Regions from separate parts of the Homo sapiens genome. Here all the other regions are reported to be linked to region 2. The links are microRNA targets in miRTarBase. Many come from high-throughput screens and were not tested one by one. Region 2 holds a microRNA gene; each other region holds the end of a gene's coding sequence. Distances are from middle to middle.

Region 1 (5,761 bases), not on the chromosome of region 2:
GGGCTCAACCTGCCTCGAGGGGGAGCGTGGGCGCATGTGAGCGGGAGGGACGGAGACTAGCGTGGTTCCAGTGTCGTCATCGCTGCTAAAAAAGGGGTTTCCCGGTGACAGGCCCCGACAGAGGAGCAGGCCATGAGGCAGGCAGGAGCCGCGTATCTGGGCCCAGCGCACCCGCCAAGCTCTCTAGCCTCTCCTGGCCTCAGTATCCTTCTCTGGGAGATGGTCCAGCTGAAAATCCCCAGCATCCACAAGAAACGGTGGAAGCCCTGGGGGCCCTGGCCTGGCCCGGGTGCAGGCTGCATGGCCGGGCGGGGCGGTGTCTCCTTTCACAGCTTCCCCGTCTGTCCGCAGCCTCCAGGAGCCCCACACAGGGCTGGGGCTCTGTGCCCCCAACTCACACCCGTCGGCTCCCCCAGGAGGAGCAGGCTGGGCCCAGAGCCGCAGGGTGGGCTGCAGGGAGGTCTGACTTAGCTGGGGAAAGTGCCATCCCTGCCATTGCTAGTGACAAGCTCGGGCTGCTGTGGCCCCAGCACAGATTCAACACTCACTGCGCTATGTGCCAGCTGTTGCACACTCACCTCCACACCCAACTCACAGGAAGCAAGGCTGGGAAGGAGGGAACTGGCCCCAGGCCACACAGATGCTGCGAGTTGGGATTATGATCGGGTGCAGTGGCTCACACCTGTAATTCCAGCACTTGGGGAGGCCAAGGCGAGTGGATTGCTTGAGCCCAGGAGTCTGAGACCAGCCTGGGCAACATGGTGAAACCCCATCTCTACAAAAAAAAAATACAAAAATTAGCTGGGCGTGGTGGTGCGTGCCGGCGGTCCCAGCTACTCAGGAGGCTGAGATGGGAGGATTGCTTGAGCCTGGGAGGTCGAGGCTGCAGTGAACTGTGATCACGCCCCTGCACTCCAGCTTGGGTGACAAAGCAAGATACTGTCTCAAAAAACTCGAGTTGGGATTTCACCCTGCGTGGTCCAGCACTGAACAGCGTTCACACCTCGGTCAGCTCAGCCCCAAAAACGGGGAAGGCCGGGCGGGGTGGGGACGGCATGCGGGCAGGCCCGTGGCTTTTCGGAGGAGTCCACGGGCTTCCGGCCACTGTGCAGGGGCGCTTTGCTCTCTGCTCCCAGACAGACCCTGTCTTGCTCACAGCTTCCTGCAGGCTCCTCTGAGAGTCCAGCAAAGCTGGGCGAGATGTCTCCCAGGGAAGGGGAACACTGACAGCCGTGCTGCTCTCTGCTCCTTCCACTGGAAGGGAGAGGCTGCATGGACAGGGGGCTCCGGGTGGGGCAGATGGGGACACTCAGGACTGCGGCCTGACCCTCAGAGACTGAGCCCAGGACGTGGTCACCTGACCAGCACCTCCCCCGTGGCTGTCCCAGCCTCACGGTCACGGCCCAGCAGTCCGGGAAAGCCACTTACACGTAGTGCCCGGATCCTGACCCCGGTGAGGGACAGGCAGGGTCCCCTGGGATTGGGGGGGGGGTGTGGTTCTTGGCCCAAGAAAGCCCCAGCTGAAAGCACCAGCTACGCAACGAAAGGGTCTGAAACCAGAAAATTCTTTATTGCAAAGGTACAAAAGCAGTCACAGCAGCAGGACGCACGGCAATAAATTAGGTGGTGGCCGCAGGGACGGGGCAGGGCGGCGGCGGCCAGACACGGGCCCACATGTGATCTGTTTTCAATAATTTATATCATGATAAAAAGCAGCACAAAAAATAAATAATGAAATGGAACTGCCAAGTAGCACAGAAGCCAGGGTGAGGCGGTGTGGCGGCGTGGCGGCATAGGGGGCCGGGGTCCCCACGCCCTGGAAACGCAAAGACCTGGATCTCTTTGGGAAGCCGGAGGCACGGAGACAGAAAACAAACCCACGTGACAAAGAGTCCCTCGTCTTTTTCTTAAATAAAAAAATCCATATATTAAATCATGACAATGAAATTTCAACAATCTGAAAAGAAAAGCAGAACACACCGTGCTTCCCCGGCCCAGCTCTGGGCGGTGACAGCGGCTCCGTCCACCCTGGGGACCAGGGAGTCCCTTCTCCAGCAAAGCACTGCAGGCCAAGGGCAGGTAGAAGCCCACGGCCCACAAGACGTGGACACCAAGAACCCCAAGACGGGACAGAACCGGCCACCCGCTGCGGCCTGTCCTGCGGGGCCCAGCTGCCTGGTACAGTCCGTGGGGAGATGAAGGGGGACGGCGGGCAGCCCGGGCCTCCGCTTTGCTCCCAACTCCCACCTGTGCCCGTGCCCCCGGCTCTGCTCTGATAGATTTACAGTATCAAACTGGAAAAGAAAGATTGTTACGAAAAATCTGTAGATAAACTGTGAATATAATTTTATATCTCTATATATTTTCTGTTTCTCTCTTTAAATATCCCCCTGGTCCTTATGACATCCAATATGGATTACCTACCACGGCCACGGGGGCAACGGCTGTTTGGGAACACGCAGGCCTTTGCTCTGTAGGGACCCAGTGGTCCTGGCGGGCCTGCAGCTTCCCACTCAACTTCTAACAGTAGACACAGAACCAAGTCGCAGCCCCGGGGCTGTCTGTCCTCTGCCCTCCCAGCGTGGCTGGCACCCGCCTGGGCTCTGTAGCTGGTGGGGGCTGTTACTGGGTGGGCAGGGGCAGCCGAGAAGGAGCCAGGGCCCCAGGCACCACCTTGCAGGTCTTATGTGGCGGCCCCCGGCCGGCGGCTCACATTCCGCCAGCTCCCCCAGGCAGGGGCTCCGCAACCCCCGCGGCTCTCGCTGCAGAGACCCCAGTCACAGGAGGGACCCTCAAGGCGGCTCTCCAGGAAAAGGAAGCCCAAGGTGGAGTGCCAAGCCCACTGGTGCCTCAGTGCTCTTGGAAGGAGGAGCAGGCAAAGGCTCCGGGTGAGGACTGAGTGCTGAGGCCAGCCACACCTGCAGCCCGTGGCTGTGCTCCTGGGGGTGTGCGCGCAGGAGCCACGTCCACGAAGCTCTCCTGGACTGGTGCCTGCTGCCTCCCCACCCGCCGCGCCCTCTGGAGTGCCAGGCTCACTCCTGAGCTCTTCTACAAGCCAGCTGCATCCTGGTCCTGCCCCTCAAGGCTTTCCACCTGCTCTCGCACACGGCTCCCGCCTCCTCCCACCACTCCACGCAACGTCCTCCTCCTTCCACCTCCACATCCATGTCCACCAACATCCCCCAGGCTGCACCCCCTCTCCCTAGACTGCAGCAGCCCTTCCCCTCGCCAGGCCCCCAAAAGACCTCCTCGTTCCCCCTGCACTGACCACAGTTGGTGAGAAGTAGCTCCAGGACACACAGCCTGAGTCCTGCTCACCGTCAAATGATGGGGCGCTCCTGCCTGTGTCCGCTGAGATCCGGGACGGCCTGTGGGGTCGGTGTCTGGGGGGCCGGATCCCGTGGGCAGGGGCTTCTGCGCTGTGCTGCACGACCTCCTCGGGTCACCAGAGCACAGGGGAGACCTCACGACGTGTGAGCCACTCTCTCTGCCATGTGTGCCCACAGGCCCTCCCCCAGTGAACACCAGCAAGCTGCACCCCCTCAGCCCTGCTGCTTTGATGGCAGGCGTGCGTGCACACACACAGACACCACCCCACGCAGGCGACCTCCCACACCGTGCCCACTCACGCAGGCCCCTGCTAAGGCAGACGCGGATCACGGGCACTGCAACGGGACAGCTGGAAGGACGGAGCTGCCGACACACCATCCATGCTCCTCCCCGGGGACTGCGGAGTCGGTCAGGGCAGTGAGGGGCTCCCGCACCGGCTGGGAGGCCGTGGCAGGACAGGTGTCGAAGGCTGCTTACAGCAGGAGTGGAAAACAAGCCCCATGCTAGACCTGACCACAGGGGCCTGACTCCTGGGGCCGTGTCTTCCGGCAGCCCCCACAGAGGACGCGGAACTTCCCGAGGGCCTTTCCATTATATGTCCCGACTCCCACGGGTGCAAGATACCAATTCCCACACACAGACACATCCTGCGGGGAGCAGGTGGCGGGCGTGAGTGTGTCTGTGGACCGGCGTGCAGCTCTGGGCCCACGGGAGCCCACTCTTCACCCTGCAATACAGTCTCTTCCTGGTGTGAGCTGCCTGCGCCCGAGGGGCCTGCGCTTGGACTCGGATGTCGAGAGTCTGCATCCCAGTGACAGGTACGAGGGGTGTGCCCCCACCCGCCTGCCCGCCGCCCGCCGCCCGCCACCCCCCGCCCCCGGCCGGCACTAGGATGCAGCCGAGAAGGGCACGGAGGTGGAGGAGAGCTCGGTGGACTTGACGATGGTGATGACGCTGGTGGTGGCCACCTTGGAGGGCGCCACAGGTCCCCGGGCCACGGTGCGCGCGAAGGTCTGCAGCGCCTCGTACTTGGAGCGCAGGGCGTCCAGCTCCAGCCGCATGCTGCTGTTCTCACGCGCCAGCTTCTCCACCTCCTGCTGCAGCTCCACGCGCTGCCGCTCCAGCTCCTCCTTCTGCGTCACCCGCTTGATGCGGCAGCTGGCCGCGTAGCCGCGGTTCTTGAGTGTGCGCCGACGCTGCTTCAGGCGGGTCACCTCCTCCTTGGTGAGACCCCGCAGGTGCTGGTTCAGCTCCCGCACCGACATGGACACCAGCTCATCATCGCTGAGCACCGGGGCGTTCTCGCCCGCCTCCTTCTTGACCTGGGGGGCCACAGTGCGGGGTCAGCGGCGGGAGAACGTGGGGTGTCTGCCTGGGACCGACACTGGGGTGGCCAGGAACCCAGCGGTGCCCCTGCACGCCTGCGCTCTCAGGGCTGGCCTTCGCCATCCGCACCAGGGACCACAGGACACTGTGCACGCAGGCAGCCCATGTGACAGCTGTGGCCCCACAGGACCCTTTCTGAACGGGAAAAGCCAGTGGTGACATCGGTCACTCCTGGTTACCGACAGCCTCAGAGCCCATGAGGACCCAGAGTGCATGGGTCCTGCTGCTGGGACTGAGCCGGCCCACAGGCACACGCCATTGTGGAGGCGGCAAGCGCCAGGCACAGGTGGGCTCGGGCCTTGGGAGCTGGAGCATCGCGTTCACCAGAGGCCACGCTGGCCACGCTGCCCACGCCTGGAGCCAGGGGATGAGCTCATGCAGTAGCGCCCGGCGGACACACAGCCCAGGCGGGAAGGCAGCAGACCCTGCCACGCCCTCAGCCTGGGAGTCATCGCCTGGAACCACAGTCCCCGATCCTGACTCCACCTCTCCTGTGAACATCCCTCGGCCACAGCAGCCCCCCTCCTCCTGGCAACAGGGAGGCCTCCATCACAGGCTCAGGACGGCCCTGGGATAGCAGGGGCTGTCGGGCCGGGGGCCTTTCCCACGCCTGTGCTTGAGACGGGGCCTGCTTGGAACCAGCCTTACCTTTAATGCCTTATTCGGTTTGGGATTAGTCGTCATAACCCGGGCACGGTCACCAGGACAGAGCTCCCTGGAACTCGTAGCTGGAAAACATGGACAAGCAGAGAAGCCAGCACAGGTCAGGGCCGGCAGCGCCGGACAGGGTGCCCACCTCCCATGCAGGGATGCTTCTCAGCCCGGGGTGGACAGTCACAGCACCATGAAAACAAGACGGGGCACCATCCGGGCCCAGCCCGTCCTGAGGGGCTTCCCAGGGGGTGAGGCATCCTGGCCCGGCCTCTGTCCCTGCCTGAGGGTTCAGGGAAAGGTCTGGCTGCACCTCACACTCTAGCACACTCCACAGAGCGGCTGGGACCCCACCCCAGGGCCTGGCAGCCAGGTGCGGCCCCCTGCTGCCCTG
Region 2 (5,761 bases):
GGCTGCTTGGGCCTTCAGTCCTGTTCCCCCTCTTGAATCCTGGTACCTGGATGCAAGTGCTGTGTCAATGCGGTGCACCCAGGCAAGCATTCCACGGCTGAGCCTTTTCTGCATAGAGCGAAGAACACCTGTTTATAATCCCCATCCTTCATTCATTCCCACCTTTAACAAGCAGGGGTGGCGCTCCTGTCATGCACCAGACATGGAGAGACAGGGTGGTCAAGAAAGACACAGAACTCATACTCACATGCCTAGTGAGCATGTTTAAGAGAAGGAACTTCCGTTGCCCACATTGTTCATGCATACGTATGTAGCAGAGAGTGAGTCTTCCCATCATCCCCTCTCCAACCCCCCAACAGTGCTCAGCTAGAGAACTACAAAAGGTGTGTCTCCCCTTACACAGAGCTGCAGCCACAGTGTGCATAGGATAATGAGTGTCATTAGCAGCATCTTCTCACTCATGTCTGGTGTGCAAGGCAATAGGCTTTCTACTTGCTGCTTATGCCACCAGAGCTTGAAGGAAAGTGGCCCTACTTGTCAGTCATCTCACACATGCATATGAAGAAAAGACACTTCACCTTTGTATGGTCATAGGAAAATCACCTGTGAGCCAGAGAGTGCTGTTTCTTTTGTACATACACACAAACACAATGGATTTGAAGATGCTCGAGCCTTCTATTCAGGTTGTCCCTCTCTTTCATTCTTCGTAGTTGGGTACAAATGCTATTCCAGTCCATTGCCTTGTACAAAAATTCAGAGAGGGAATCTCATCCATGTTTAAAAGTGTAGAGTCTTTGCATCACCCCTCTATGTCCCATTATTTCATTTCTTTAAGTTATGTATAGAGCAGTGGTTCTCAGTGTGGTCCCTGGGCCAGCAGCATCTGTATCACCTAGGAGCTTGTTCAAAATGCCAATTCTTGGGCTCATCCCTGACCTACTACACCATAAACCATGGAAATCTGTACTTTACCAAGGCTCTCAACTGATTCTGATGCTCACTTAAGTTTGAGAATCACTGATTTAGTATAAGTGCTAGCTAGGGGCAGTGATAAGCTAGTCAGGTGAAGGGTGGAAGAGAATGAGCTCCTGCATTGCTCATGTACGTTCCCAATGCCGAGTCCATGCAGACTGTGGCAGGGAAGCCATCATTTCATTACTGTCTCCACCTCCTCCATAACCACACATTCAGTGAGCACATGAGGCTAAGTGAACACACAACAAGTACTTTATTAGGGAATAGACTTGGCACTGCTTCTCCAGGCGTGCACCTGACACTTTAATCTCAATCTGTCTCTCTCTCAATCAATCAATCAATCTCTCTCCTCTCTCTCTCTTTCTCTCTTTCTGTCTTTCTTTCTCTCTCCTCCCCCACCCCCCTCCCATGTGCAGAAGAATGAACTGCTCCTTCTCCCATACCCATTGCATATCGGAGTTGTGAATTCTCAAAACACCTCCTGTGTGCATGGATTACAGGAGGGTGAGCCTTGTCATCGTGAATCTTCTGCTGAACAATCCAAGTAGCCCGTGTTTATTGCGCACTTTTGATGTGCCATGAGCTGTGCTGGGAGTACCCTGCTAAATAATGGACAGTGTCTCTCTCCGGGACTTCCTATCTAGTGGAGGTATTAGGTGCCTAGACTTCCCCAGGCCTAGGCAACAGACACAGGTGTGTCAGGAATTGAGCCTTCTCATTCTCTTATGAATACACATGCTCACATTGTGCATGCATGTGCACACACACATGTGTAAGTGTAGAAACATTTCTGTACAAAGCTGAAAGGAAGGAGCCTTATTATCTAAACTTGCCTGCAAGTTTCCTTGCCACACACACTCAGATGCATGCCTGGTGTGCAGGTGCCTGGACTTTGATTTTTGCTTGCCCTCTCCTAGCCTTGCAGCCTAGGCACAAGTGCTGTCTTAGCAGTGCAATGGGCTTGTGCAAGGATACCAGCTTGTGAGCCTTGCCTATGTGTAGGACAGAGCCTGTCCATCCCTTCTCTTTCCTTTGTTCATTCTTTCAGTCAGTCATTTGTGTGTGCATGTTTTTGGTCCATTCATTTATTCATCCCTTTAACAAATTTACTGAATTCCTGCTGTTTGGGAATGCCACAGTAAACTAACCTGTCAGAGATGCCGACCTTACTGTCTAGCAGGCTCATGGAGAATAAGCATCCTCATGTCATCCAACTTCCTGTGAATACATGGGCTCAGGGTGCCAGAAATCAGGCTTTTCTTTATTCCCTCCCACAGACATGGGTACCTGTGCAAATATATGTGGTGTGCACATCCTGAGCCTGCTGCTCTGCTTCCCCTTGTATCCTTGCCACCTAAATGTGCATGCTGTCTCAGTGCAGCACCTATTCCAGGACTCTCAGAGGGGCCTTTTTCTGCCCATAGACAGACAAAGTGCCTGTGAGTCACACTTCCTCCTCCCTCTCCTTCCCCTCTACCTCCCTTTCACAAGTATTGAGCACTTAGTACATGCTAACGCTGTGCTGCCAGGGCAGTGGGCATATGGTATCACACAAGATGGACTTGGTTCTTGCCTCAAAGAATATGTGTAGGAGACTTGACTTTTTGTCACCTAATATTCCTGCACGTGCTGAGTTAGTGTGGGCCACAACATGGGACTTCTTATTGACACCCTCTCCCAACATATACACAATGCAAGACTCTCATTCCTGTTCTCACACAGAGCTGTGTAACAGAGAACCTTCTCTGCTTCGAGCACGGCAGGTGCCCAAGCCTTCTGCCCTGCTCCCCCTCTCTAATCCTTGCTATCTGGGTGCTAGTGCTGGCTCAATGCAATGCACCTGGGCAAGGATTCAGAGAGGGGGAGCTCAACTGTACCAAGAAGGACAGAGAGCCTAGACATCACCCCTCCCACCCTCCCCTGTCATAGTTTTTGAGTGATGGGTGTGTGTTGGGGAAGCACAGAACAGAATAGTTAGGGACTTCAGGTGCTCTGGTGGGCTTGTCTGTGTATTAGAATAAATGTCCTTATTAAATAATGTCCATGTATGCAGGTATCCAGAGTGAGACAGTGAGCTTTCTCTGTGTTCCCCACCTGCTGTCCACACACAGGGTGGTGGGCGGGAACCAGAGCCTTCTGATTTGCTCCCTCACTTCCTTCCAACCTAGATGTGAGTGCTGTCTCAAGTATTAAGCCAAGGATTCAATGAGATGGAGCCTTGCCTACCTATATGTATATATATGGACTGAGTGCATATATGTCTCTTTTCTTGCCTTCCTATATCTTGAGTTTCTAGAGTGTGACAGATACTCTTTTTAGTGTTAAGGATGCAGTGACAAACGAGAGTCAAAATCACTGGATGTGCTCTCTGATGGGCAGCTTTAGAAGAAAAATTCAGACGGGCACAAATGATGGGGGCCAAAGAGAGAGTCTTCCTATTCCCCCCACTCTGTCCCCTCTGAGGACAGGGAGATGCACACATTCATGAAGATTTACACTTACAGAATGTATAGGAGTTTGAGCTTATAAGCTGCCCTTTATCTTCCAGGACATCCTGAGTAGAACTGTGAGCTGCCTTTAGATGTCTATTACAGACTCTTCTTGAATTAGAGGGGGTGAAGAGCAAGGGACCCTTCTTATTGCTGATCTTGTATGCACCCCACACAATATGGAAATGAGAACAGCCTATATCTTTATATTACCTTACTTTAGTCAAATAGAGATGGACTATACATGTCTCTGTTTCAGTCTATCGCTCTCTCTGTCCGTCTCTCCATCTCTCTCTCTCTCTCACCTAGGGAGTACAGGTGCCCATGATCTGATTCACTCCCCTCCTCCCATCCTTAGCGCCTGAGCCTGAGTGCTTTCTACTGTGACCTCAGCAGTATTCTTCAGTTGTTACTCTCTTCTTAGCTAAGCTGATCTATTCATTCCTCCCCATCTTATCATTTTTGCTCATTGCCCATTGCAAATTTATAGTGTTCAGGTCAGCGTAGCAATACAGTATTATAAATAGTGGTGACAGAGACAGAAAGAGACACACACTCCATTTCAGTCCTCAAGTTCTTAAACATTTGGGACTTATAGATTCTGATCCTTGGTCCTTCTTCTCTCCCAGATTCTCCCAATCTAACCTGCAGTAAAGATTCAGGTTATTTAATATGTGCTCCTTATCTTTTGTATACTCTAAAATCTCATTTTGGTTACTGCTCAGCCTTAGTCTTATTTTATCAGACTTTATACCTCTCTTGATGCCCAAGACTAGCAGCATCAGCATCCTCCAGGAACTTGTTAGAAATAAACTCTCAGGCCTCACCTCAGACCTAGGTAATCAGAAAGTCAGGGGTGGGGCCCAGCAATCTGTGTTTTAACAGCCCTCCAGGTGATTCTGATGCACACTGAAGTTTGAGAACCATTGGTTTAAATGACTTAAAATTTCTATTCTGTCATTACTAGGGGGATTTCTGTGTTACACAGGATGATTTTTAGCATCAAAATTTCCTTATGTGTAAATGGCTCTTTTAGTTTCTTTTCATATTTTAAAAATTCATAGACTTTTTTGAGCAGTTTTAGGTTTACAAAAAGATTGAATGGAAAGTATAGAGTTGTTATATATTCTCGAGACACCCCAGTTTCCGCTATTAACATCTTGCATGAGTGTTGTACACTTGTTAAAATTGATGGGCTAATGTTGAGACATTATTATTAAATAATAGTATAATTATAATGTATTATAACTATTATTAAATAATAGTTTAAATATAATTATTAATGTAAACCATAGTTTACATTAGAGTTCCCTCTTTGTGTTATATACTCTATGGGTTTTGACAAGTGTATAATGACATGCATGACCATTATAGTATCATACAGAATAGTTTCACTGCCCTAAAATTCCTCTGAGTTCTGCCTATTTATCCCCCCTCCCCCACCCTAAACCCCTGGCAACCGCTGATCATTTTTCTGTCTCCATAGTTTAGCCTTTTCCAGAATGTCATATAGTTAGAATCATACATTATGCAGCCTTTTCAGAATGGCTTATTTTACTTAGCACTATGCATTTAAGGCTCCTCATATCTTTTCATGACTTGATAGCTCATTTCTTTTCTTTCATTTTTTTCCCCATTTATCCCATATAGTAACCAGCTTATTTCTTTTTATCACTGCATAGTATTCCATTGTCTGGAGGCACAAAGTTTATTTATCCTCACCCACTGAAGGGCAGCTTGGTTCCTTCTACATTTTGGCAATTATGAATAAAGCTGCTATAAACGTTTGTGTGCAGGATCTTGTATGGACATAAGTTCTCAACTCACTTAAGTAAAATACCAGGAAGTGTTGCTGGATCATATGGTAAGACTATGTTTAATTTTGTAAGAAACCACCAAACTGTCCTCCAAAGTGGCTGTACCATTTTACATTTCCATCAGCAGTGAACGAGAGTTCCTGTTACTCCATATCCTCATCAACATTTGGTTTTGTTAGTGTTTTGGATTTTAGGCATTCTAATAGGAATGTTTTCTTATCCTTGAGCTTAAAGAGTTTCTTACTTATTTTAGATACAATCCCTTTCTAAGATATGTCTTTTGCAAATATTTTTCCCATGTGTGATTTGCTTTTACATTCAATTAACAGTGGCTTTTGCAGAGCAGAAGTTTTTAATTATAATGAAGTCCAGTCTATCAATTTTTTCTTTCATGGATCATGCTTTTGGTGTTGTATCTAAAAGGTCACCACCAAACCTAAGATCACTTAGATTTTAGCCTACATTATTTTCTAGGAGTTT
Region 3 (5,761 bases), 580 kb from region 2:
GTTAGCCAGGATGGTCTTGATCTCCTGACCTCGTGATCCACCTGCCTCGGCCTCCCAAAGTGCTGGGATTTCAGGCGTGAGCCACCATGCCCGGCCGGAACTGTTTTCTTAATAACATTTTCGGATTGTTCATTTGATCTTGTGTTTTAACCTTGTATCCTGCAACTTTCCTAAATTCATCCAGGCAGGTAGTTGTGAGCAACACGAGAAGAGCAAGAATATGCCTGGGATAAGGAAAAAATGAATTGAGTAGATCAGGACTATAATAATGGTTACCATGTACTGAATATGTTTTCAACAAGTCAGTACTTCCCATGCTGTAATATGTTCATGAATCTCCTGGAAATCTAGTTAAAATTCAGACTGCTATCACTGGGTTTGGGGTGGGCCTGGGATTCTGCCTAATAACTTCTTGGATTGTTAGTGGCTTTTATTTATTATTTTCAAGTTACAATAACTGCAAGCAAGATAATACTGTTCCCATTTTACAGATAAGAAAATGACCTCAGAAGTTGAGCTAGTAGCCCAGGTTCATTGAATAAGTGGCAGAACCAGGATTTGAACACAGTTCATTCTAATGCCAAAGCTGGACTCTTTCTACTCTACCACAATGGATATCTTGAGTAGAAGGAGGATAGTTGGAATGTGAACAGAATATGGATCACGAAAAAAGAAAGCTTTTCAATGTCAGAGTTGCTTCCTGGAATACATTTGAGTCTAATCTTTGAGGTTGCCTTGGAGAGCAGATCACCAAGGCCCTTGCTTTCCAGGGAGCTGAGCATGAAGGTGTGAGATTGGACTATCAGCTAGAAGTAAGATGAAAATACTAGACAGAATTCAAGATTGGAAGAAGTCTAGAAAGAATGGCTTACCTTCGATCAGGCTAGACTCCAGAACTAGACTCTGTATACTGCTTAGGTCTATACCTGAGATTACACCTATTGTTGACTTTTTCTGCATTCTAAACATGGGGTTAGACTGGATGTGATGTTGCCACTGAGTAACCAGAGAGGAAGAAATATATCAGTGAGCTAAAGGGCAGGGCTGTGATCCTGAGATCCTTCTGAGTAGAAAAATACCATGCTTCAATACTGTGATAACAACAGAAATAACCAATGGCTTAAACTCTGTACCCCCTACTCAGGATGGTCTTGAAATAGATGTCTAAAAGCTGTTCCCCTAAAAAGGCTATGGCAGATCCTGCTATTTAACTGGGGATGATGAATGGTATAGCATCAATACCATCCCTCAGAGGCCAGGGTAAGGGTTTAGGGATGTGGGTAAGGGTCTGGTCATATGTTTATCTGTGAAGGACTATGGATAGGTGACCAAATTCCTTTCCAGTACTTTTCAGCAGAATCTTTAGACTTCCATCACCTGAGTTAAAACACATGAGATTTTTTTTTGTCCTTAGCACCTTTTATTGAAATATGACCCTTGATGACAATCTGGCAGGCATATCTATGTCAGCCAAGAAGGGAGTGGTGGAGGACACAAATGCAGAAACAACAAGATTTGGAAAAAGAATAGCTTCACATGGGATAGATGACCCCCAACAGCTGTACAACCAACACTGGTTCTTCATCTATAGAAACTGTCCCCTGCCCCACCCCCCCAAAAAGATCTACTAATCTTCAAATAATATAATATGCTGTTGCAGAAATATTATTGGCATAGACGACTCCTCTGGCAAAGCTCCAAATGGGTGGAAGTGGCCAGAAATGGGCCCAGCTTCCTCCATCTGGGGCTTGCTACTGGCAGAGCAGCACTGTCAGGGAGGGTCGGGTTCAGGATGTGGCTCTGGTGTGCCTGGGCAGCTTTATGGCACATGAGGTTAAATGGAAAACAGAACCTGAACCTAACCTTGAAGGAGGCTTTTTATCTTTTCACCTCTCCTTTTCTTTGCTTCCAATTTCTTCCTTTCTAGGGCTTTATTTTCAGTGTCTCTGTCTTATTCTGTCAGATTCTACTTGGGCATTTACAGCTATATCCTGGTTGAGTCTCCAGCTGTGGGACTCAGGAAGATTCAATTATCCAGAGCCCTGGGAGGTGGCAGGAGGGGTTGGGGGGACATGTGATAGTAACTCATGCACTGACTTCTCTATCAGCCATCATGCTTGCCTATTACCCATGGGGGCCTGTATAAGTATTTGACGGGAGACAGCAGAAGTTAAGACTGATAACTGTCTTTGGGGATCTCCCTTGGCCTGCCTTCCAAACTGCTACTCACTGGCAGGCCTTGGAGGAGGGCTGAGCCCAGGAACTGAGAACAGGGGAGAGAGACTGCATCTCAAGTAATACTGGCAGTGTTGCAGCACCGTCACACACAATGAGACTGCCCTGGCAGGAGTGTGGCACGCCAGTGTCTGTTTAGCAGTTCACCTTTATCTACCAAGCTTCACTGCTAGATATACTTTTGGGGTTATTTTTTAAATGCTTTGGCAACTTTCCCTCCATGTGAAAATGAGCATCCTTGTGTTCTGATTCTAACTCTAGAAACTAATTTGAGATGGGATTAAGAACAAAAATAACAGAGTTAATAGTATTTTTGGTGTCATAAACTTAAGGTACAACCAATCACATGCTGACTAGAAAAACTCAAGACTATGGCCATAGTGTCCAGGTAAGTGACCGTTCTTTTCCCTAGGCCCATATTCCCAAAAAGGTGCTCTAGCCCACAAATTCTGAGAATGATGAAACATATCAGCCTCATCCTCCCAATACAGGACATCTCAATTTGCTCATTGTTTGTCCTAGAGCCTGCTCAGAAGAAAAGATGACAACTATGGCCTCCATTGAAAGCACTCCCCTACCTTCTCAATCTTGGCTGGCTTGTGTAAGCCTAGCCCCTGCAAGCCACCAGCCTTCCTGAATAAAGTAGAATCTTCCACTGGAGGGGAGAATGGCAGGGTTGCCATTCTAACAGTGTTTCTGGCAGCAGTACTAAGAGCAAACCCAGAGCTCCACAGAAAGGCTTACCCCACCCCCTACCCCAGGACACCCTGCTGGCCAAGATTCTCCCATTGTTTTCAAATACAATGAAGAGGAAATGGAAGCTAGTGACAAGTATTTGTAACAGCAGCAAAAGTTCCTTGGCAAATTCTTTGGTTGAATGAGACATCCCTGCTGCTACAGTTGACCTTCAAGGACCCTGAGGAACTCAGCAGTAACTAGAAGAGATGCCAGGCCTTGGCTGGGTTGTGTGATACCAAGGATTGGCCCCAGTTAGTGAGGAACAGGGAGCTAAGCTGGATAACAGGGCAGCATTTGGCCATAACCCCCTTCTTGCCATCGTCCACCTGAGGGCTGCTTTTCCAGCATAGAAACTAGCTACTGGTGTCAGGGCCTTGGCAACAGCAGCAGTTTTAGTTGTTTGTATGCCTAAGATCCTGGCTGGGTCTTCAATTGCTCTGGGGAGCTGGCTCTGGCTGGAGCTCCCAGCTACCTTGAGTTTTGGTTCCCTTGAGCCAGGCCACAGGCTGAGAAAGCAATGGTTAGAGGAGTTCCTTCTGAGCTCACCTCTACTGATCCCATAGCTTGGAGATGGTAGAGAAATGACTGAACCTTTCTCCATTTCAGGAGATTTCTTTGGTTTCAAAAAGAAATCAGTAAGAAAAACTTAAACCCTGCTGGGGAATGCTAAACTCAAGTCACTTAGACTTTAAGGGAAGCACAAGGCCAGGCCACAGTAGGGAGGCTCTGAGTTCAAGGGGAAAACTCCTTCCTAGACATCGGTAGCTATGGTGGGAACAATTCAACGCCTTGGCACTTGCTTACCTAGCCACGGTGGATTCAGGCTGATCTGCAGAAAATGCTTTCCTTCTGGGCTAACTTTTCCCTCTCCAACTTCCCTCTTCTCGCCTTATTAGTTAAAAAAGAAAAAAATAATCAAAACATAAAAATAAATAAAATCAAAAGGCCATTTAAAATATAACAATAAGAACCCCCTCCCCCAATAATGAAACCTACATCTAGAAGTCAGTTTTAGTAGAGCTATTAATGGCCCATATGGTGAAGCCCTGGGGTAGGCACCTGCGGTAACCCCCAGCAATGTAAAGGAAAGATGAAACAAGAGGTGGTAGGACCAAAGTCTTAGGACAGGAAGAGGGTCACACTAGCCAGGGCTAAGAGTAGGCCTCTTCCCCTGAACTTGCTGCTGGGAAAGGTAAGGGTAGAGCCTATTTAAACCTGGTTCCTTCCTAAGGGGCACCTGGGGGTACTCAACCTTTGCTTGCATTTTTTTCAGTGTAATTCCTCCCTCTGTGCTTTCCCCTGCAAAGCTTGGGTGAGGCCCTGAAACTGGTGCCAGGTGAATGCCCTCAAGGCAGCCAGCTCTCTGTGAGAAATGGCTGGCCACAAGCCCTGGGGCAGAGTAGAGCTGCAAGGCAGATTCCCTCTGAGCCTTTAGAGGCTGTTGATGATATGGGTGGGTGATGAGTACTTGATGTCTTTGGTGTCCTAGTACAAAGCAGAATGAAGGCACTTCCTTGGTTCTCTGTGCAGCAAGTACTTGCCCTTGGCAACTGTGGGAAGGAGAGTGTGGTTCTAAGATCACACCTTGCTGCAGCTCCCTTGGGTAGAAGCTTGTGGCTTCCCCAGGGTCTCCTAGCTGGTTAGGACCACTGCTAGGGAAGGGGTAGTGAGAGACATCCAGGGTAGAGGGCTGGAACAAACTGCTAATTGCTATCTACTTGCTGAGAAACTGCTAACAAAGAAGATTGAAAGCACTTCCCACATGGCTGGGCAGGGATGCTGTGGCAGAGTGCTGGTAGAATTAGAAATTGCTGGGCCCCAGGAGTAGACTCTCCCTGAGACATTTGAGTTGCTCTTCCCCGAGCTTGATCTTCTCCTCCAGCTCTCGCTGTTCAATGATGAGAGCAGATTTCATCTTGACAAAGTGCTGGTAATCTTGGAGCTGGTCCTGAGGCAGGTAGCGGGAGACCATGCCAAACACCAACTTCTCCCGGCGGTCCACGTGCTCCTTCAGCTCCTTGGCATCTGCCAACTGCCCCGTCAGCTGCTGCTTCTTCTCTATCAGTACCAACTGGGGAAGCAGAGGACCAAGTAAGGGCTCTCTCAATTACCAGGCATCTGTCCAACAGTGCTGCCTAGCAGTACTCCACCAGAGATGCTGCCACAAAGCAGCTATACATTCTGCTAATTAGTCAGTCCTAGATTTTCTGCCCTGAAGTCTACCTCCATGCAAAAGCCTTTGTTTCCTGTAGCAGGAGGGTAAACATGACAACAATTCTGGATAGGGGATGTGAAATTACCTCTTTCCATCTCTTTAACGCTGTCTTCAATGTAGGGACCACCACTGGGCTTGGGGTGGAGGAAGGCTCTGACAAAGCCAGCCTGTGTCCCTTTCACCTGGTGAACAACTGTCACTGTGGAGGTGCTTTCTGTATGATGTGTGTGTCTGTGTGAGTGGATATGTGTGAGTGTATGTGTCTGTGTATGTATGTATATGTATGTAGATATGTGCCTCTTGTTGTGGATTCAAAGGTATATCCAAAGCCACCTGTATAGGGAAAGGTGATGCAATTTTGGTTCAGGAGTATATGCATAGTGACCCAACCTGTGAAACTGACAGCTTTCCAATCTCAAATACTTGATGAGACCTCCCCCTCCAACTCTAGAGTGAGGCAAAACTGCTGCTGCTACTACTACTACTGGGAGCTAGCATTGATTCAGTGTTTACCCTGTCCCAGGCCCTGTTTTATGTAATTAACATAAACTAATTTAATTCTCACAATAATCC
Region 4 (5,761 bases), not on the chromosome of region 2:
GTCCTGGGCTTTTCTTTTGTTGGGAAGCTTTTGATGACTGGTTCTACCTATGTGTTTTAGGTTGGTTCAGATTTTTTCCTTTTTCTTCTTTTTTTGAGGTCAGGTCTCTGTCTCTGCCTCATTCCTGGCTGGAGTGCAGTGGTGCTGTCATAGGTCGTTGCAGCTTTGAACTCCTGGGCTCTAGCTATCCTCCTGCTTCAGCCTCCCAAGTAGCTGGGGCTACAGGCACGTGCCATGACACCTGGTTGATTTCTAAAGATTTTGTCGAGGCAGGGTCTCTGTTGCCCAGGCTGGTCTCGAACTCCTGGCCTCAGGCCATCCTCCTAACTAGTTCTCCCCAAGTGCTGGGATCACAGGTGTGAGCCACTGCACCTGGCCCTGTTCAGATTTTCTATTTTTCCTGGGACAATTTTGGTCATTTGTATCTTTCTAGGAATTTTTTTGTTGTTGTTTTGAGACAGAGTCTCACTCTGTCACCCAAGCTGGAGTGCAATGGCATGATCTCAGCTCACTGCAACCTCTGCCTCCTGGGTTCAAGTGATTTTCCTGCCTCAGCCTCGTGAATAGCTGGGATTACAGGTGTGAGCCACCACGCCTGGCTAATTTTTGTGTTTTTAGTAGAGACAGGGTTTCACCACTTTGGCCAGGTTGGTCTCGAACTTCTGACCTCAGGTGATCTGCCTGCCTCGGCCTCCCAAAGTGCCGCGATTACAGGCGTGAGCCACCACACCCAGCCAAGATGTCGCATCTTTTTAAATGTTGGCATTTGCAGCTATAAATTTCCCTCAGAGCAGTTTTTGCCGCATTCCTTAAGTTCTGGTATGTTGTTTTCATCCATCTCTATTTCCTAATTTTTCTCGTGATTTCTCCTTTGACCCTTTGGCTGTTAAAAAGTGTGTTCAATTTCTATGTATGTGTGAATTTTCATTTTCCTTCTGGTATGGATTTCTGGTTTTATTCCATTGTGATTGGAGAAGGTGGTTTGCAGGATTCCGATCTCTAATTTACTGAGACTTGCTTTGTGCACTAACGTGTGGTCTGTCCTGGAGAACGTTCCCTGTGCACTTAGAAACGTGTGTTCTGCTGCTATTGGGTGGAGCACTGTTAAGTCTGGTCAGCCTTTTGGTTTTTATGTAATACTTGGCACATTCACAAGAAAATGTGTGAAACAGAAAGTACGACAAAGTGAAACCCACGAAGCCACCACTGACCCTGAGGTTCAAAACCTCCAGCATCTCTGCTCTTCCCTAAGCACAGCTCCGTCCCCTCCCCACGGGTGAGCACTGTGTTGTACTGACTCCCTGCCCTCCCTGATGACTTTAGCACCTGGGTATGAATTCCACACATATTTGGTTTTGAGCTTTATAAAAATGGCATCATACTGTATGAACTGTCTTGCTTTTTCATCCCACGTTGTTTCTGAGAGGTGTTTGTGATGGAGCACAGGGCCACGGTGCCCATGCATTCCTCAATCATTTCTCCAGTCTTCTGAGGATGGGCTTCTGGGTTGTTTGCAGCCTTTTGCTTGTCCCAGTCTCCTAGTTTCTCCACTCCATCCGGGAGCATCACGTTTGCAACAGGCAGGGCAGGTGGTGCATCAGATGTCCAGGACACAGTCATTTGACACCCAAGAAAGGAGGGCCTGGGGCCTGCATCAGGCCATGGCTGAGTGGGACTTTGCCAGGCTGTCTCCGCACCCAGCGACAGGACTGTGCGTGCTGCTGCTTCTTTTGTTTCCTCCACTTCTGTTCCCTCATCCAGAGAGGGCGGAAGAGCTGGAAACAGAGGCTTTGTCAGGGAATAAGGAAGCCCACCTGTGTGGTCCCAAATGTCGCAGGGGCAACGCTCACACCAGATACCTCCCTCCTCCTCCTCCCTGCAGCCTCTGGGCTCCCACAGACAGATGCCCTCCTCTAGTGCCTCCAGGGGCAGGCCTTGGCCGCCAGCCTGAGGATGCCCAGCGCTCCCCTCCTCCCCTAGGTTCCTGTGTTCCCCCAGTTCTTGCCTCTCCTGCTGGCTGGCTGGGAAGGCCCTCAAGGATGGGGCCCAGGACTGGAGGAAATGGTGACCCGGACCCCCACCAAGCTGGACAGGCAGATGGTAGGCAGGACACACCTCTGCAATCTCTGGGAAGTGACAAGCAGAGGCCTCCCAGGGACAAGAGCTGAGAAGGATGAGCCCCTGGCTGGGCTGGGGCTGCCAAACAACTGTCTCAGTGCCCCAGGGCAAGCCCAGATAAGGTGACATAGTGGCAAATGTCTCTCCTGGGCAAGCCTGGGATGCTTCACAAAACAGCTCTTCAGCTGAAGCCAACTTGGAAAATTCCAGGGAAAAGGAAATTTACTATGGGGCGGGAATAGCCGAGCCTTGGCTTGAAACATCCAGAGCTCAACCTGGGGCCCCAAAAGCCACTTGAAGGTCGACCTGGCCCCCAGGTCCTGCACAAGCTTTGCAGGCACAGCCCAAGCTTTAGGCAGGTCGCTGGCTTACGAGGAGAAAATAGTCCCTGGGAGCACAAAGGAGGGACTCGGCCAGGCCCACCAAGAGGGAGTCCTTTAATAGAGATCGGCACAGACAGGAGACACAACAGCCCAGGCGCCCTGCTCGCACAGGCTGGGGCCCTGAGCCAACAGATGCAGTGGCTTCCTCCTCCCCCACCTGGGTGTGGGCCCATGGGGTGGAGACAGAGAGGTGGCTTTAAAAAACACAGCTGTACTAATTCTTCACTTTCACAGAGAAGGGGAACTTGGGAGCGCAGCCCGCTAGAGAATCTTTACACAGAGCTGAATCTGAGAGCCCACCCACCCACCTCGGCCAGGCCGAAGCTCACTGTCCCCCACCCATTGGAGGTTCCTCCCTGATCTGTCTGCACATGGGAAGGAGCAGAGCGCGCAGGGAGACCGGGCTGTACAACAGGAACATGCTGGCTGGACAGCTGGCTCCCCTCTCCCAGCTGTTAGTGTTTCTACACTATGTACATTGTTGTGCTTTGTAGCTCCCCCACCCCGAGGCCTCTGCTTGAAGCTGGGGTGGGGAGAGGAACCTGACACCACACACGGCTGGGCTGCCAGAGCTCCAGGCCCCCAAGAGGCTGCCATTCAGCGAGGTTCCAAGAGCTGGACTGCTGGGCACAGGGGCCACTGGAGCCAAAGGCCCAGGGGACAGAGCCAGCCCTGCCAGATGCCCAGCTCTGCCCAGTGGAGGAGTTGTTGAAACAGAAGGATCAATGCTGGACAAGAAGCAGGCTGGGTGGGGGCAGGCAGGGGTGGAAGGACAAGGTGTGAGGCTGTGAGACCAGGGGCGTGAGATGTGTGTGTGGACAAGGCTGGACAGGGCTGGGCAGGGGCACCTCAGCAAAAACCGTTCTGCAGCAGCAGGCTTGGCAGAGGGAGGTGGCAAGGGCTGCCGGCCTGGGAGCCCCTCCCATCGAGCACAGGGCTGCTTCCAATTCAGGGGCAGGGCTGGCGGCAGAAGGCTCTGGCTCCAGGTGTGTTTTGGGGGAGGTTTGGGAAAGACCACCGGGTGTCCCATGGGGCTGGGCATGAAGGGCAGGGCTGTGGTGACATCTGTGAGCGTGTCCCCGCCGGGCTTGGGGTAAACACAGGATCAGTTGTTCTCAAACAGAGAAAGCAGGTCGTCATTGTTGTTCGTAGGGAGGTCGGGTGGGCCCAAGTAGGACAGTAGCTCATCAGGGTTGGTCAGTTCCGGGAGCAGCTGAGGACAAAGTGAACTCTGTTAGCAGCTTTGGTCACTGACTGGCCACACCTGAGTGACCATCCTGTCACCACATCCCGGCCCTGTCTCCAGGCACAGTGGGGATGCTGAGCAGCCCCTCCTCACACACAGGCCGGGTGCGGGGCCCCACCATAGGCCTGCATGTGCTCAAAGAGGCACACGCCACCCCCTGGGACCTCCCTGCAAGGTTGCTCTGGGGCCAGAACAGCTGGCAACATGCTGTTCAATACCACCAGGAAACGGGATGTGAGGGAGTGCAGCCACTCCACACTCCCTCTGTGCATCAGCCTGCGTGGGGATCCCCACCGTGATGCCCCAAGGTGAATGCTGGTGGTGGAATTCCATGCCCCTAGGATTTTCTGCTTGGAGCTGTTCTTCCTAACTTTTTCATGTTGAACTTCTAGAATGAGTTTCATGTTGAACTTCTAGAATGAGTTTCTATTATGGTCCAGGGACAGTCAGTTCTGTCCTTCATGTACTGAGTTTGCACTCCCATTCCACCTGTGAGTCAAGACCCAGGGCTACTGAGCAAATGGACAGACGAAATTTGACTCTAAGGACCGTGCTGTCAGCTTCCAGTGCAGTCTCCTCTGAGACTCTGCGTCCGCCCGTACGGCATCCAGGCCCCTCATGAACACAAATGTGGTACATCGCATCCCACCCGCAGCTACTCCAGGTATCTAATTCATGAACAAAAGCTGCATTTAGTTGACCTTATCTGACCGGCTCTCTGAGGGGTCACTGTCTTCCCTTCCAGAACGCACCTGGAACAGACACACCACCTCTAGCCCTGGCTCCCACGCACTCCCCCGCATGGGGCCTGGTACTCACGTCCAGAGCTGGTTCTGGGGCCTCCCCGGCTCCAGACATGCTGGGGGGCCCCATCACGCCTGTGGCAGGACTGAAGGCCAGTTCACCCGTAGGTCCTAAGCTCGCTTGGCCCAAGGACTGCCGGGACGCTGGGGGAGGGTTTGAATGGTGCAGCTGGGGACCTGGAGGGGCCCCAAGGTTGGAGGTGTGTAGTCCTGGTGTCCCAGGATTGTGAGTGGGGTCCAGGTGACCTGCTGGTGCCATCTGAAGACAGAGAGAAGAATTTGTTAAAACAGCTCAGGGGCTCCCCTGGGGAGACAGGGCCCCTTGGCCTCTCGGCTTGGCACTGACCTGGCTTGGGAGGCAGGCGGTAGACTTCTCTGAAGTCAGGAGGCTGCTGGGAATGTCAGACTGGTAGGAGATGGGGGGTGGTCCCGGGGTGAACTCAGCAAGGGTTGGGGTGCTGGGCGTGGTGGGTGGGAAGGACTCAGGGAAAGTTCCAGGCCCCAGGAAGCTGGAACCTGTGAGAGGAGAGTCGGGGCCTGGGTGAGGGCTGGGGAAGGCCACCGCTGGCAGAGGAGCCAGGAGGGAGGCTGGCTGTGGCATGGGTGGGACTTGCAGTGCTCACCCACAAACAACAGCGGGTTTTGCAGAAGTCGCTATTTGGAAAAGGGCATTTCTTCTCATTGCTGCCAAGGGAATTGGCCTTGGGACATTCCTAGGAGTGAAGGTCTCGGAGGTTATAGGAATGGGAGCAGCCACAAACAAACGCACCACGCGTGTGAGGTGGGTCCCAGAGGGGGGCCCCAGATGGGGCCAGTCCTGTGAGGTGTTCCAGCCAGGAGCCCCTTAATCCAAACGGGGAAGGAAGGGTGGAGGCCCCACTGTCTGTTTCCTGGGACCATAGCTGAGACTGTGCCTTCACCGCCACGTCCCTGAGATGGGAGGGGCTGGAGGTGCCCCGCGGCATGTTTTGTGTGGCAACACTGATAACCTAGGTGTGTGACCTGCATAGCCACATTCTTGCAGGTGAGGAGACTGATCTGGGGAGAGGAGCCATATGCCCAGGGTCATCTGAGGTTCAAGGCTAGCCTGCTGTACTTACCCTGGCCAGGGTAGTCGCTGGGGGCAGGGACTGAGGGGGGCTGCAGGGGGGCAAAGGGGGCAGCGCCGGGGCCCAGGGCGGCGATCATCTCCATCACGCTGGGCATGAGCA

The links. The annotated mature microRNA hsa-miR-660-3p reads ACCUCCUGUGUGCAUGGAUUA and lies in region 2 at 1,452-1,472, shown strand. An mRNA with a match to its seed (bases 2 to 7 or 8) in the 3' UTR can be bound and repressed. Matches are read on the target gene's strand: a 7mer-m8 pairs with bases 2 to 8, a 7mer-A1 pairs with bases 2 to 7 and ends in A, and an 8mer does both.
Region 1: miRTarBase lists MAFK as a target of hsa-miR-660-3p. Seed matches in the 3' UTR shown: 7mer-A1 at 3,144-3,150 and 7mer-A1 at 3,141-3,147.
Region 3: miRTarBase lists SHROOM4 as a target of hsa-miR-660-3p. The part of its 3' UTR that is shown has no 7-base or 8-base seed match.
Region 4: miRTarBase lists ZMIZ2 as a target of hsa-miR-660-3p. Seed matches in the 3' UTR shown: 7mer-A1 at 2,645-2,651, 7mer-A1 at 1,868-1,874 and 7mer-A1 at 1,865-1,871.

What each region holds. Positions count from the first base shown.
Region 1 is chr7:1,538,832-1,544,592 of GRCh38, reverse strand. MAFK (MAF bZIP transcription factor K) reads right to left here. Exons shown (of 3, transcript NM_002360.4): 2 at 5,365-5,444; 3 at 1,550-4,652. The coding sequence starts at 5,400. The coding sequence ends at 4,218. It overlaps TMEM184A (transmembrane protein 184A), which reads left to right. Exons shown (of 9, transcript NM_001097620.2): 9 at 1-2,358. Among named protein-coding and RNA genes, the nearest start is that of MAFK, 11 kb to the right of the region's middle. RefSeq lists enhancers at 24-173, 5,214-5,761.
Region 2 is chrX:50,011,841-50,017,601 of GRCh38, forward strand. It overlaps MIR660 (microRNA 660), which reads left to right and starts at 1,401; the gene lies at 1,401-1,497. The region is part of intron 3 of CLCN5 (chloride voltage-gated channel 5); the gene reads left to right. MIR502 (microRNA 502) reads left to right here and starts at 2,758; the gene lies at 2,758-2,843.
Region 3 is chrX:50,591,921-50,597,681 of GRCh38, forward strand. It overlaps SHROOM4 (shroom family member 4), which reads right to left. Exons shown (of 9, transcript NM_020717.5): 9 at 1-5,044. The coding sequence ends at 4,775. Among named protein-coding and RNA genes, the nearest start is that of DGKK, 120 kb to the left of the region's middle.
Region 4 is chr7:44,765,469-44,771,229 of GRCh38, reverse strand. ZMIZ2 (zinc finger MIZ-type containing 2) reads right to left here. Exons shown (of 19, transcript NM_031449.4): 16 at 5,651-5,761; 17 at 4,897-5,066; 18 at 4,567-4,809; 19 at 1,349-3,714. The coding sequence ends at 3,607. Among named protein-coding and RNA genes, the nearest start is that of ZMIZ2, 20 kb to the right of the region's middle. RefSeq lists enhancers at 2,746-2,885, 2,720-3,246.